Regions from separate parts of the Homo sapiens genome. Here region 1 is linked to region 2. Evidence: fine-mapped expression QTL. A gene starts in region 2. The other region holds a variant in brackets. All regions are shown on one strand. Distances are between the middles of the regions. Region 1 holds the start of RERG-AS1 (RERG antisense RNA 1). Region 2 holds the start of RERG (RAS like estrogen regulated growth inhibitor).

Region 1 (8,347 bases), 66 kb before region 2:
TGTGGAAACTTAATGCCATGCTCCCCTTTGGTCCACTACAGCCTGTTTCTAAAATCTACCCCAGGGGAGCATTCTACCTCCGTAGGCTACATCCAAAATCAGTCTTGGTTTTGTTGTGACTATGGGTGATTTTTTTCCTCTGTATTTTCTACGTTTTCTATAATGAACACACTTAATCTTAGAGTGGAAAACTGACTTTGAAAATAAAACAAAGCAAAAACAAAAACCAATCTCGGTAAGTCAATAAGAACCACATGTCTTTTAAATGGAAAACATGCCTATTTCTCCTTTGTTTCTTAGAAGCAGCTTGCCAGATACACAGTCCACAGCTTTGAACCATTTACATAAACATACCCAAGCCAAGTGTTTCCACGCAACAGCCAAATTGCACCCATATTAGCAATTTAATGACTTTGAAAGTAATAAGTGGTAGAAACTGATATTCACTTTGCTGGAATTCACCTTAGATATTCCTTACAAACCACAATCCAGTGGCATTTGTTGTAGATTGTAGATGTAGATATTCAAGAAACTTTGAAAGAAAACACTATTCATCTTGAGATGGGGGGAAAAATGCTAAGTGGTAACAAAAGGTAGAAATCTTTCAGGTGAAATGTAATGTCCAGGAACTGAATGGTAGTGGATCATAGTAAATCATCCACCAGAGGGCACTGCCAGAATATACAAAGTTTTCTTGGAAAAGATTGGACACCCCCTAACTCTAAGCAAAGAGAACTAATATGGTTAGGTTAACAGAATTCCACTTTTATTATGCTTCCTTTTCCTTTATAAATCAGGTCAGTCTTTTCCTCCTGATGAAGGAATTCATGAACTGCATGCTACCCTTACTGTTATGACTTCTAAAACTGCTGCAACCATTTGATTGGAAAAGTATTTTACAATAAATGCTGCGTTCCATGTGCTAAGTACTGAAGTTATTACCATGACAACAAGACCACCTTCTTGCCTACAGTTCGGAGATTAATAAAGGGCTCCTGAGATAACCACAAGGCACATGAAATAACCCAGGAACTATAAATTGCAAAAGGTAAATGCTGTTTTGTTTTGCACTTAAAGTACCATTGCTGTTCAGTGAAGGGAATATTGCCCACAGATGTTTTGGAAAGCCATCTGAGGAAGGCACAGAAGGTTGTACAAATAGAATAGGCAGAAAGGAAAGCAGAACACAGCATTAGCAAAGTCATAGGAGTCAAAATTTCATTGCTAAGGAAAACTAGTGCTTTTCATTTCATATTTCTGGCTGTCCTACTGACTTGGAATGCTTCAAATGCACCAATTCACCTGCCTTAGATATGGACTGATACTTCAGTCCCATCTGCTGTAATAGGTGAGCTTTTCATATTTTCTGAAGCTATTATCCATAGTGTTTCCCCTCTAATTTCAAAAGCCTAGAGAGAAACAATATGGAAAAAACTCTTGTTTTGGACAGAGAAGGCTCTGAAGCAAGCCACCTCCTAGAGATGGAGAGCTTCATTTTGTCCTGCCTGAGCCAAGATAGGACACAGTAGGAGTTTGCTGCAAGAACACAGAACACATCAGGTTTTCATGTAGCAGTGCCCTAAGAAGGAAACTGGACAAGGATAACTTGAATTGAGGAAACCAGTCCAGCTGGAGCACCACCCTGTGGTTTCGCATGGACTAGGAATAGAAATTTGCTCTGAAGAAATGTATTTTTAAAAGTTAACCTTCACATGGTATTTGAAGTTTCATAGAACTTTTTTGGATTGGAACCAGATCTAGCATGCATGTTCTTAGGTATTAAAGCCTAATATTATTATATTACTCTTTGAAAAAAATGAATTCTTTCATCATAGTAATTTTCTTAAAATATAACACTGCTTTTTACTTATATTAAATTCTCTACTGTTTCTGATGTTATGCTACTTAGGAAAATGCCATTTTCTTGTTAAATTAATATGTGCAGACAAGTATTTACTTACCACACATGAACATGAGCCCCTTATAAGTCATCACTCCTAATATTTATGGTCTAAGAATGAGGTAGTTCGGGTGAGTCACATATTTACACTTAGCAGAGAGATTAAGAAAAAAATTCGCACCACAATTTCCCTTAAGTAATGGAAAAAATGTGACTTGTTACACATTTGTTTTCTGGGTCAGTGTTTTTCCAGCTTTTCCATAGAGTCTTAAGGTCATCCAAGGTTTCTTTAGGTTTTCCTAAAAGAAAGAACTGGGGAGTTGTGATGGGTGCTTGATTTTAAATGTGATAACAATTATCTGCGACTTTTAGAGAACACAGCTAACCATTGTGAAGATTACTGTTCTGGATAGTGAAAAATATGAACCAGCAGTATAGGCTTTGAATGTTTGAAATTGATGATCTTAAATTTCTTAAATAACAGGGCCCTAGACATGCACTTTGCTCACAAAAGAGATCTTTTACCCCAGTCTTTAGAAATTTGCTTAAAGTGGGAGAGTCTAGTATTTATAAATAAAAGGAAAGCAGTAAGATTCAGAAAAATACCATTGAGATTTATAAGGAACTAGAGAACCATAGTTCCTGGAAAATCCAGGAGTAATTGAATAGCTTTTATAATATAAAGAAAAAGAATATTCACGGTGCATTACTTTTGGCAGCCTATCATCTAAATATGGCACCCAGAATAAATGCATTGACTGAAGGGAAATTGTATGATTTGCATAAATTTTACCAATGGCTATAAATTATCCTCTCTGGTGATTTTTCAAGATAGATAGTGTTATGGGTTGAATTGTGTCCCCTCAAAGGACACTGAAGTCCTAATCTTAGTATCTGTGAATGTGACCTTATTTAAAAATAAGATCTTTGTTGATGATCAAGCTAAGATGATTTCATTGGAGTAAGCCCTAAGTGATTAAATATGACTATGTTCTTATGAAATGGGGAAATTTGGACACAGAGACAGACACACACAGAGAGATGATATGGAAACATAAGGAGAACACCATCTGCAAGCCAAGGACGGCCTGAGGTTACCAGAAGCTAGGACAGAGGCAGGGAACAGATCCTCCCTTACAGACTTTGGAAGGAACCAATCCTTCTGACGCCTTGATTTTGGAGTTCTAGCCTCCAGAAGCATGAGGCAGTAAATTTCTGTTGTTTAAGCCCCCCAGCTTGTGGTACTTTGTTGAGGCAGTGCTAGCAAACTAGTACAGTTATATATTCTGAATCCTTGTCTTTTGGCTTGCCATTTAGCCCCCGAGTCTCCCTGGCAATCAATAAAGCACAGAAGCTTTGTTCAGATTGCCAACCACCCGGTTCAGTTCTGGACAACCTCATACTGCCATCCACGTAAGGCAAGTTCCTTTTAAAGTTTGCCAGACCAAAGCAATTAAGAGGGCAAATCTGTTGGAAAAACTCACATATTGCATTATGAAGCCAAATATAAATTCTACTTTGATTATTGTTCCTTATGAAGGAGAGCAGTGTCTCTAATAATCAGAAAAGAATCAGGGATTGATTGTATTTCATTTTCTTCGAGGAAAATTTGGCCAAATAGCTAAAGTAACCTGATTAATGAGAAATTTGCAGAATGGGAAAAACACTGCAATTATAGGCAGCAACCATGGACATCCGCTGATGGCCAAAGAACATAGCCAGTCTTCTGGTGCGTACATTATGTGGCAGCTCGTTGGTCTCCTGCCAAATAGGACAATCAATGTAGGTTGAAATTTGTCTCAATCTCACTCGGCAATCATATTCATAAACACTGCCTCTGTGTCTTATTTAGGTGAGACAGCAACTTAAAGACTATTATGTAAACAGAATTTTCATACCTAGAATTTTAAAAATGTATTAAACTTTAAAAGGGTCTTTCCTAATATTTGATGGAGGAGCTTCAGAATAGTTAATTTAAATGAAATTGTAGTATTATATATTTTCATTTTTTAAAATGTTAAGTTGCTAAGTGTGAAGGCTTTAGACACTGACACCTCATATTGATTCTTGCTTTACAAAGAGACTTGGAAAAGAAACCAGTGTATGTATAAAATGATTAATTGGGATAAGAAACTCAGCTAAGAGATATTCAGACTGGAAAAAACTAAATAAAGAATATAAAACAAGCAATTAAAAAAAGGAAAAAGCAGGCATGGTGTTGAAGTATATGAAGTAATCTAACACCACTGTGTTTTTTCATCTTCATTTTCCAGTGTCTATGCTGCATTGTAACTTTTGGAAAAACATGCACACACCTGGTGCCACCTGGGTAGGTGTGACCAGAACCTGCCTGTTGGAAAATAAAGGATTAAAAAAATGAAATGAGAGAAAGTGACACATAAAAGGACAACTTAAGGTTTCCGCAAAGCAAATACATAACCAAGCTGATCAACCCTCCAGCATAGTCCTTCTGAGCTGTGTTTCCACAGGAAAATG[A/T]GGGTAGAGGCAATCACAAAAGTCTTGGCTCTCATCCACCCCTGTGGCCTGCTGACACAGGCCCAGCTTGCCAGAGCACTGGGGTCACAATGAAGTTGCTGCCAGTAGAGCTGCTTTCATTAAAATTGAGTAAGAAGAACAGGTAATGGGGTTGGGCAGAAACTAGGACCTGAAAGTGGTTGGGATTGGGGGACTCCTGTCTTCTAATTGGGAAGGCTGGGTAGGGCTTCTTGGTAGTACCTGACAATTATCTTGTTCTAGCATTTACAGCCTTTCTCTACTCCTGGAGTCACTGCAGGGCCCCCAGGGGACTCTGAAAACAGCCAGTTGTTAAGCAAGGGTATTCTCCACTAGGGCTACCATGAAGTTTATATTATAGAGCTGGATCTTTCACCCCTTTTGTGCTGTAAACCATTTGTGCACAGCCTTTGAACTATTTCTCATAATAATACTTTTTAAATATATATAAAATATATGTCATTACAAATAAAATCAACTATGATGAAATATGGCACATGTATACATATGTAACTAACCTGCACAAAGTGCACATGTACCCTAAAACTTAAAGTATAATAAAAAAATATATATATATATTTATAAATATTGATATACTGTTAGAAAAACATTTTTTAAAATAAATAGGTGATATAGTAATTACATTCTTTATTAATATGTTCAATATAATCTGGTCTTGAGCTTATTAATTATGATTTCACATTAATGATGACGAAAAATAACATTTTGAGATATCAGCAACAACTGATACGAATGGAAATATCCATCATTTCTATTAGGGACAAAGTCACAGGTATTGCTAACACTGTGATTTGTTTCTACATTCATCATGGAAGGCAGTGCCAAATGTCATTTAAGGGTGCATGAAAATGTAGATGAAATGTTTTCCCATACAAGTTCACAGACCCCCTGAAATCTACCTGTGGACCCTTTGCTGGATCTGGAGTTCAGGTTAAGAACCCTGCCATACAGGCTTACCCATCCTAATACGGAAGTTTACCACAAATACCACATCAGCTTTCATGCAATTGTATGATAATTACCAACTTTTAAAACAGTGTCACTTTAATCTCTATCTCTCTGATGATTCAGAAATCACTTCAAAATTTTCACAAGAAGTAACATTGTGAGTATCAAAAAATTTGCCCTGTAGACTTGGGGAATGCTTGTTAATGAAATTACTAGGTTCAGAAAATCTCTAATAGTTGTTAGTATTTTCTTTCTAAACAAGAATGTGCAACAAATGATGCAAGAGCAGAATGGTATTATCATTGCTTTGCGAGTCCTCAGGAGAAAGAAATAGAGTGATCAATATGATCAATAAAACAAGGCAGTTTAAGCTTAAGTCAGACCCTGAAGTCAGGCGCATTTTCGTGCAAATCTCAACCCTACTACTCACATTTGACAAGTTATTTACTTCTCTAAACCTCTAAGCCTGTATCTGAGCTACAAAATAGGGATAAAAATAGTGCCTATCTCATAGAGATATTGAGGGGATTAAACGAGGTAATACATGATAACATACTAACTCAGGCTCTGTTGTTAGAGGATCCATTGCCCCTCTTGCAAAATGGGAAAATGGAAACCATCTTCAAGTCTGTCAGACATCTCTAAGCCTGTCTTTTCTTCCAGCCTCTTTTCTTGGAGTTGCTCTACATTTTCCACTGTAGTGGATGGCCTCCGTTTTTCATTCGGCATTGCAGGAATTTTGAAGAATACACAGTTTTTGAAAAGAGACAGACAGTTCAAGAAGACAGGGGAAAACAGAAGAGGCCACTTATTTTGCATATAAGACAGATGCTCAGGGCATACCAGAATAGCTTAGAATTATTTGTAATCAGCAGATATGAGTGTAGGTCTGGTATCAGCTTTAAAATGTTTTGTAATGTTGAGAAATATTTTACAATCCATCCACCCCCAGTTTTCCTATGACAAAATGTCAAGAGGGACGTGCAAGAAGCTTGAGAACCAGCAAGTAATTTTTCATATGAATTCCCACTAGTTGGGACTGACTTGAAGGATGTAATTTATGGCCATTCTTGGGAAACAACCATGAAAATGTAGTGCTAAAGCTTGTCAGCTGCTTCCTGTCCCCTAAAGTGGTAGAGATAACTTACCAGAGTGTCCCATTTTCACTCTTTTTGGTTCCCACATTATACTTACAAACAAATAAAAACAATACAAACATGAAAGAGAACTCCAACTTCAAAGCACGCAAAGATAACTGATGACTAGGAAATAAGAGCTTTGGCTGCTTATTTGAATAAGCCAGGCTTTTCTTTTTCATCACAGTACAATGTAAATGACTGCCTTTACTGATGAGAAAATTTTGCTTTTCAACATTTTTTTGTCACTCTTTTGTATATATTTTCAAACTTAGAAAAAAGCTATGAGAAAAGATTACATAACTCTCATATTCTGTTTATCCAGATCCACAAACTGTTTACATTTTTCCCATTTGTTTTATCATTCACTCTCCCTTCTCTCTATACATAAATATTTATGTATAAATAAATATATATACACACATTCATATTTTTCTGTACCTGAGAATAAGTTGGAAACATTTTGCCTCCTTACATTTAAGTGTTTCAATATCTATACTTCATAATAAATACATTTTGTAGGATAACAAAAGTATAATTATCAATATCAGAAAATTTAACATGATGCAATGACATTATCTAATCCACAGTCTATATTTGAATTTCTTCAATTGTCCCAATCATGCCCTTTCTAGTTACTTTCCTCTCCTTGGTCCAGAATCTAATCTAGGACTGAACATAGCATTTAGTTGTTATAACTCTTTACACTCTTTTAAATTGGAACAGTTCCTCAGTTTTTTTGTTTTTTTGTTTTTTTTTAGATAGAATCTCGCTCTGTCATCCAGGCTGGAACACAGTGTTATGATCTTGGCTCGCTGCAGCCTCGACCTCCTGGGCTCATGTGATCTTCCCACTTCAGCTTCCCAAGTAGCTAGGATTACAGGCACACATCACCACACCTGGCTAATTTTTGCATTTTTTTAAGAGATGGGGTCTCACTGTGTTGCCCAGGCTGGGATCAAACTCCTGGGCTCAAGCGATCCACCTACCTCGGCCTCCCAAAGTGCTGGGATTACAAGTGTGAACCATTGTGCCTGGCCTCTCAGCATTTTTTAATGATATTTCATCTTTGACATTTTTGCAGAGTATAAGGAATTTTGAAGAGTACACAGTTTTTCAAGAGAGATAGACTAAAATGTCCCTCAGTTGTCTAATACTTCCTCATAATTAGATTCGGATTAGGTATTTTGGGGCAGAAATGCTACAGAACGATGTGTGTCCTTCTTAGTGCTTCATATCAGGAGGCATATGTTGTTGGTTCATGTCCCATCATTGGTGACATGAACTTTATTTTATTAAGGTGGCATTATTTTATTTTATTTTATTAAGGTGGCATTTTTTTAGAATTTTCCAATGTAAAGTTATTATTTTTCTATCTGACAATTAATGAGCAATTTGTGGAAGATATTCTGAAACTATGTAAATATCCTGATCCTCACCACACTTTCACTCATTAGTTTCAGCCTCCACTGGTGACTCCTGCCTGAATCAATTATTTTGATAATTTCCGAATGATAGTTTTCTAACTTGTCATTTCTTCTACATTTATTGGTTGATATTCTATTGTAAGAAAGAACTTGTCTTTCTCCCTGTTGATTTTTTTATACACTTACTGTTTATATCAACAGGGAACCATGTATTCTTTTTTTGTTCAATGGATTGTAATCCATTACTGACATTACTTTGTCTCAGAAGTCACCAGGGAGAGTCCTTTCAAGCTGGTTCTTGTGTCCTCTTGATAGGTCCCTACCATTTGTGGCCTACAACCACAATAGTAGTTCATGCTTTTGCATAATTTGCTGCCTTACTAGTACAGAAATACCTTTTT
Region 2 (8,347 bases):
GGGTGTTGGTAGACAATTTACTGTTGTTAAAACTAAAGCACTGAGTAAATCTTTTTGGTTCCAGTCTTTGGATTCACCATATCATTGTGAATCTTGGAAGAGTCCACAATCCTTAAACAAAAGAAATTTGGGAATTCATAAGTGACTGGAAAATGAATTAATATTTATTGAGCATCTACTATATGCCAGCCACCATTCACTTTTTCAACATTTTCTGGTTTGATCTTTACCACTATCCTGTGAGAAGTCTATGGTAACTTACTGTAAATGATTTAACTAATAAATGGTAGATTCAGGACTTGGATTTGGATCTGGTTGGTACTAAAACGTGCATTATCACACACAATAGCATTTCTAAAGTACTTCCTCAAGAAATTTTCTTATGAAGGTATTGATTCTTGATAGTAACTGAAAGTAAAAGTGAATACACACATTTACCATCTATCTGTAAGCATTCAGTGTACAAACACATGCAGTGGGGCAATGGAGAGAGTCACTTTTGGGCCTCTTCATGTCTCTTTGGGTTGAATAACATACATTCATATTAGTCAACTCCAATGCAACACAATTCAATTTTGCATCTCAAAGTTAAATTTTTTCTCAATTCACACTTGATCACATGATGAATTCCTGTGACAGATACAGATACACATGTTCTAGGAATCAATATATAATACATAGATTACATTTCTATATTTTGCTGGACACAATGCCCTGGTACAAAAACGATAAATGCCATGCTCCAAGTTATTCCTTTTCTATGATGACTTCAAGTAAATTTGTTTATAGTGCTGTCTTAAAGCTTGGGAAATAACATTATGTACAAAGTAAGCACATCTTATTTAGTTTGGTGCTTTAGGAGTGACATCTAGGTTCTTAGGATCATGGAAACGTAAATTTGGAAAGAGCTTTGGTGGTGGTGGGGGCTGGAGTGGGGGTCATCTGAAGAAATCTTCTAGCCATTCTTCTAGCAAGAATCTTTCCTTAGGACATAACAATCATTCCATATTCCATGCCTGACTTACCACTTCCAGGTATGAAAGGTGGGCTCATTACTTCTGAAAGCTGCTTCATTTCTCCAATTAGGAGGAACTATCTTTCTAATATTGAGCTCTAAACTGTCTCCCTGCGGCTTCTACTCATTTGTCCTCATTTCTCTCTATGAAATAACTCAAAACAAGTCAACTTTTTCTTTCACTCAGAACCGTTCAAGGATCCTAGCATCTAGTAGGACCCTTTGCTCCATCCTAGGCTTCTTTTTTCTAGGAACATGAGGCCCAGCCTGTCCACTTGTTCTTCCCGGAATGTACACTCTCGTTTATGTTTTTTTGACCTTCACTCCCTTTTTCATCATGTGCATTGCCTCCTCAACATCTTAATCACTCTAAAAGCATGGTGTCCACTGCATTCCACTTTGAGATATGACCTGACAAACTGACCCGGTGTAAATTCCCTGAGATTTTCACTATCGTTAATCTGCCCACCATGGTTATACTGTAGCACAGCCAATCACATTAAGCCTCACATCTTTTACACGGACTGCAGACCCCCTCATTCCGAACATTTGCAATCAATGGCTTAAACCTAAATACAGCACAGCACTTTTACCCGTGTTAATCTTAATCACACCAGTCTGCATAATTCATTCCATTTTCAAGGCAGTAAAGATGTTTTAAACACAAATATGTTATCTAAATGTGTTAAATGTTCCTGCCAGATTTTTCCATCTATAAATTTTTACAAAGAGCTTCTTGAGAGAGAAATTAAAAAGTGAAAATCCGCCTGAAAAAGTATTTCTACAAAGACATTATCATGTAATTGTTTTCTTCCTTAGGTATTTAAGCTATCATCCTGTACCTAATAAGGTTTTGTATTTGCTGATTTTCAAAGTGCCAGAGCTTCCTCTGAAGGAAGGAAAAATCAACATTAACATTAGCTATTGTTTACTTCATCCTCAATAATGACAAAGTGTCTAAGTAATCATTATTAGCAAAAACCAGAAGCTTAAACATCTGCAATTTGTCCAGTCCCATATTTTTGGCTAAAGATAAAAAGATTTCCTTATTTGTCACTTTAGATGCATTCATTAAGAAAAGGCCCTATGTTTTTAAGGTTCAGGGCTTCATCACAGAAACATAATATGTGGAGATATATTAACTATTTAAATTATAAATGAGAAGAGGTGCTGGCAAGTATTTCTTTGAAACATTGAACACGCAAGTGTCTGCAGCTAGTATAAACAATAATTTTGTTTCATGCAAAACTGTTCATATACATGGATATAAAATGCAAGTAATTATCTGTCTGATTAATGTTTCATGAAAGTAGCCATCAAATGTGATTTTAAAAAAATGACAAGTCACATTTTTTAGTAACTCCCAAATGGCCCCAGAGGCATAGGAATTTCACATAAGAAAGAGAAATTGTGTGGGCTATTTTTTCCATTTATAACCTAATAAAGATACAGCTGGTTATTGTCAACCTAATTTTATGTTTAGAAAAATCACTTAAAGGAAGACACAAAACTGACAGGAGTTCTTCAACATTTTATTTCTCACATGAAAATGTGAAAAGTTACATTTGACAAGATAGAAAACAAAAATAAATATGTAAATTGTTGTAATAAGTAAACTGTTGCCAAGTTTCTGATGTTCCAAATAATTCATAATCTGAGAGCTTCCATACGTGGATCTAAGAAAATCCATTTGTCCTAATGTTCTGCTGAAATATTCTGAGTAGGGCTGAAATTTGCCATTCACTTTTTATGTGGATGGTGCTTATTAGGACAAAAACATCTCAGCTGCTATCACTCTAAAGGTAAAATCATACCTATTTAGTTTGAAGGTGTAGGTTTTTTTTTCCCTAAACATAAATTAAAGGAAAAAGGAAAAACGCTAGCTAAAATCCTGTATTATTAGTGATGCATTCATTGATTTATTCCACACTTTCACGCTATGCACATACAAATAAAAGTAGTTCCCTTCGAAGAGCTTACACTCTGTTAGACCTATGATATTTAGATAACTGTAACCTTATTTACTTACTTATTTAAAGAAAGTTTTCATTCCTAATAAATCATTCTCAAGGCTATATTTATCAAGGTTCATGCTTTCTACTTCCTCTTGGGGGTGGGGCAAGCAAGCGTCTTTATAAGGTAATCATGCTTGGAACTTCTGTTTGCATGCGCTCATCAAAATCAAGTGTAGCTATTTAGGGAAGCAAAGACCCTAGTCTAGGCCTGGAAATGAGATTCTCTTCTTTTTTGGCCTCCCCTTCTCTGGTTCTGAAATCAAGTTTTCCTGGTCTCATTACTAGGAATTCTTCCTCTTCTTATCACTACGCAGTACCCACAGCAAACCAGGATAATTGTATAAGCCCCTTGGCTATTTAATGTTGCTCTGAACTCAACAGGTATCTTGCAAGAATAAACAAATCCATTGTGGACTGCAAGTCACTTGCTTTCAGGCTAGGGAGAAAATGCAGCCTTAAGTCAAAAGGGCATTTTCCCTCTCAGCTAGGAGAGCCCTGTCAAGATAGGCTGCTGGTGTTCACATCTCCCTCGCAGCGAACCCCAAAGCCGCCCTGGGAGGAGAACCCGGTGACCAAGAGGACCGACTCAGAGGCCGAGCGCGCTCAGGGCTCGGAATGGGTCTGCAGGAAGTCGTCCCGAAAGAGCTGCCTGGACACGTGCGTGACACTCACCTGTTCACACTCTCCAGGCCAGGAGAGCTACGGTCCTCTGCAAGTTCGGAATGGGTCCCCCAAGATCGCGAAGCCCTCCCACACTGCGCAGCCCAGGCTTCAGGTTGCGTTTGCGAGTTGCTGGGCTGCGGTCGTGGGTGGGACTCGCCGCAGAAGCAAGTGCCAGTGGCCCGGCGGGGGTCTCCTCACTCGCGCTCGCTCCGACTAGCGGCGGAGGGACTGCGGCAGGACGCGAGCTGAGCCCGGCCAAGGCCGCTGCGCTCAGCGGCCAGGATGCTGCAGTGCGGCGCTTCGGCGCCCCCTACTGGGGGCAGGGGCAGGCTCCTCCCGCCGCGCTGCCTCCCAGGCTTGCGAGCTTGGGTCTTTAACGTGCTGCACCCAAGACGGGCTTCCCTTTTTCACTGGTTATTTCCAAGCCTCCAGGCTCCCACCGAAGGGCGGCTTTCCTCGGTCAAAACCTTGCCTAAGAAAGCATCACTACGTGGTGTTTTCTATTCCTTATTTCAAATGATCCTCGCAATATCTCTTTGAAGTATCTTTAATTATCTCCATGATACCCAAGAGGAAACTGAAGGAGAAGGTAACGCAAGGCTAGTAAATGGCTGGAATGAAATCCAGACTGGATTGGGAACTGAGAGATGCTAGGAAAAACAAACAAGGAATTCAATTGAAATTCTATTCATATATTTGAGAAAGTTCCAAAAGCTTCTCGTCCTCCTTACAGGATCAGCATTTATAGGATTTGCATTGGAGTCATACTCCATTATGCTCAGACCCTAACAAAGACAATTAATATGCGAGCTGTGCTGGACCTGCTTTCATATCCCTCATCTGATTTGATTTTTACACCCTCTCTTCATGTAAGAACTAGTATTATAATTACTAGCCTTTCACAGATGAGGAGGTGAGCTTCAGAGAGGCTAAATGATCTCCCAAAAACTGAAACATCTGAGCAAAGAAGCAGGAGGCACTTATGTTATTGTTTTTCCCTTATAAATCTGGGTATTCTTACCAAGATACCAAACGGCTTCCAGAAAACCAGTGTTATATAGAACAGACAGGGGCCTAGGGCAAACTGAACGATCTGTAGAATGTCATCAATGGGAAGGGAGGTAACCATGGAGGCAATTTCCAGAGTCCAGACTGACCTGGAAGGTCACTGCAGCCACGAGTGAATGGCTGAATGGAACAGCTAGATCTATGGCAAAAAGAGGAGTTGCCTAGCTGAGCAGGAGCTGCCCTGCTGGTTCTTTGAGAAAGCTCAAACATTGTATGGTTTATGAGTTTCCTGATCACTAATGTACCCCTCCCTCCACACCACATACATCTGGATTAGATGCCTCCCTCTGTATCTCACAGGACCCTGTGATCTTATCATTGTGTTTGTGTTGTACTCATTTCTGCCCCTTAGTCCTCTCCATTAATCTGTGAGCTCCCAGAAGCCAGGAATGTACCATGTGTGACTTCTGTATTCCCAGCATCATCCATACAGTGTGTATACCTACAGCCTGGCATATAGTAGGTAGTTAAAGAATACCTACTGAATTGAATGAATTAAGATAAAGAAGAAGTTGTGATAGGATATGTTTGAGCTTTTTTACATACTGGATTTAGGATAGACCATCCAGTAAGAAATTGAATGTATGGGGCTGCGACATTTAAGAAAGAGGCCTGGAAAAGAGAGAGACTTTGGTGTCTTAGCATGCAGAAGATCTTTGAAGTCTGGGATGGGATAATAATTACCCAGATTCATTATATAGAATCTTACAGAATTCCAATTACATGGAATCGTGTGGCATTAAGGTGTTCAGGTTTCACATGTTACCTTGTTTCCCCCATTAAATCTTATACTCAGGGCAAGATTTAATAAAAAAAAAAAAATCTGTGACCCTATATCTGTAAATATACTATTTACAGAGACTTGAGTTGGAATTCCCACTTTGCCACTCTTATTTAATAAGAGTTATTGACCAGCCTGGGCAACATGGGTAGAGACAGCGTCTCTACTAAAAATACAAAAAATTAGCCAGGCGTGGTGGCACGCATCTGTAATCCCAACACTTTGGGAGGCTGAGATGGGCGGATCACCTGAGGTCAGAAGTTCGAGACCAGCCTGGCCAACGTGGTGAAACCCCATCTCTACTAAAAATATAAAAATTAGCCAGGCGTTGTGGAAGGAGCCTGTAATCCCAGCTACTCCAGAGGCTGAGGCAAGAGAATCACTTGAACCCCAGAGGCGGTGGTTGTAACAAGCCAAGATCGTGCCATTGCACTCCAGCCTAGGTGACAAAAAGAGACTCTGTCTCAAGAAAAAAATAATAATAGTAAGTTTTCGAAGAGGGCCCAAGCCAGGTCCCATTTGTAGTAGTTCTTTTGGAACTTGCCTATGGAACCTGATTCTCTCCATTTTCCTGCTTAGCCCATATAACAACAGCATTCCTCCCTCAACTAGGGAGGCATTTGCATACACATCTGCAGTTCTTGATGTGCTGCTCTAAGATAGATGAAGTAGCTATCTTGGAGCCTGACTCCCACTGTGTTACATCTTCCGTATGTATCCTATATTCTGCGGGCTGCTTCCTTTGTCTCTAAAGCAGCAAAAAGAGGCACGCTCTCTTGTGCTGCCTGCCTCATGGATCAGTAAGAAGGGCAGAGGACACTTTGTACTTACGGTTCCATGACATATGTTTGCTGGGCAAGAATTCTCCTGGGGAAAGGGGAAGTCCTTGTCACATTCAAGTCTCTTAGCCTGGCCTTAGGCTTCAGCTAAAACCTCTAACACAAAACAAGTAGACGAAGTGTTGATATAACCACAAAGCATGTTAGAAACTGGAATTGTGTGTGTGTATGTCTGTGTAGCTGTTAATCATGTTTGTTATAAATAATTCAAACAGTAGAAAAATACAAAGATGTAGAAAATCATCCCCAGAATCACACTATCCAGAAATAATAACCATTGTTAACATAAGGGGACCATCATCATTCCAGATATTGTAGAAAACAGACATCCTGATGGACAGGTATGTGAAATGGCACAGATATGCTAAGTGTCATCATCCTGTAGATGCTATTTTTAATTTAAAAGTACACTTAATGAAGCAGAAGATAACAAAATTAAAGTGAACATTAAAGGCTGACCAAACTTTAGATATTTACTCACTTCATGAGATAGTCACTTACTTCATGAGATATTCACCCTAAAGATTCCTTTACAGTTTGAATTATTACATAAAACCAGATCTGAATTCATTATGCTTAAACATATATTTGTTTTAGTCAATATCAACTGACTGTTTGCTATTTAAAAAGAAGAAAATAGCTCTTTTATTATGTCTCTTTTTTTCTTCCCTCCTTCTATATTTTTACACAGGTTTCGTTTGTTCATTGTCAAGATTTGTAACATTCACTTTCCACTTATAACTCTCATTCCCAAAGTGGTTTAAACTTAGTTCTATATTTAAATAGAATAAATTTCTTTCATTGATTCTTTTATCATGTTTTTTCTATTATTGATTATTTTGATTCATCCCTTGATATCTTCATTAAGCAATGTTTTCAAGAAGGTCTTGCAGGTGCTGTATTGTATAATTGAGAATACCTGTTTCTTCCTTTTCTTGTTGTTTTTAAATTTGTTATTAGCCTACTTTTGCTTACAATGACCTTCTCCTCCTTTTTTTTCCTGTGTAGTGTGTTTTTATATTTATTATTGGTTTCTTTTTTAGATCAAGACTCATATTTGCTATGATACAAATTCAGTTAATTGTGCTTGACTTCATTCCTACCTTGTCTGAGGCCTGTTTGTTTTTTCTATAAAGCAATGGTTTGAAGGTGAGCATTGCATTCTGTCTACCATCCCGAGATGAGAAGGTGAGGGCTTCTGAGTCTCTGTGCAGCCTCTGAGAGAGGTTACATGCTCTGCTTTTGTTCTCAGGTTTTACTAAAGACTCTGTCTCAGGATTTAATGCAGGCCATCAGGATCACATACTGTTTCAGAAAGATTCCCTTAAGCCTGAGATTGCACTCTTCATTCATTCTTGGAGCCCTCTACTCTCTCTCCCAAGCCATTTCTACTATGACTACTCACTCTGCCCTCTCCTCCCATCAGAAAAGGGTAAGTGTAGTTGCTCAGTTCATTTCACTCCAAATTTGCAGACATTCTTAACTGGTGAGAAATAATACTTACGATTTGATCACTCATCAGTACTGCTTCTGGAAAGCCAGGACTTTCTATATCATGATCGTTTATTTTCTTTATTTCATTTTGAAGTTACATGGCAAGAAATTATACTCATTTCCTTATTTTGTTGCTACTAATGATTATCTTTTGACTTTGGGATGAGTATTTAATTGCTGTTACCATTTATTTAGTTAAATATTAGGCAAAGGCAAGACTGATTTTAGCTGAGATTGAACTTTCCTGTTTACTGGGAACAACTATAAAGGCTAACCAAAATATACAAAATAGCTGTTTGGAAGCATTGGCAAACAACCAAGGCAGGGCTGCACATCTGACAGAGGGGATGTACTGGAGTTTAGCCTCACAGGCACACAAATTTTCTTGTTGGGGGCATTTTAAGGGCCCATATCCATGAAAGTGAAGCCCAAACATCAGTGAGAGATTAGGGTTCAGGGCTACTAAAGCAAC

The links.
Region 1: its variant is fine-mapped to the expression of RERG in subcutaneous fat (TwinsUK, PIP 0.95).

The regions. Positions count from the first base shown.
Region 1 is chr12:15,151,023-15,159,369 of GRCh38, forward strand. All of the region lies in intron 2 of RERG (RAS like estrogen regulated growth inhibitor), which reads right to left. It overlaps RERG-AS1 (RERG antisense RNA 1), which reads left to right and starts at 901. Exons shown (of 3, transcript NR_046559.1): 1 at 901-1,048; 2 at 3,218-3,318; 3 at 4,174-4,261. The variant A/T (reference allele first, on the strand shown) is at 4,397.
Region 2 is chr12:15,217,493-15,225,839 of GRCh38, forward strand. RERG (RAS like estrogen regulated growth inhibitor) reads right to left here and starts at 3,925. Exons shown (of 5, transcript NM_032918.3): 1 at 3,703-3,925; 2 at 1-111. LOC124902886 reads left to right here and starts at 3,176. Exons shown (of 1, transcript XM_047429948.1): 1 at 3,176-4,486. The coding sequence starts at 3,753. The coding sequence ends at 4,070.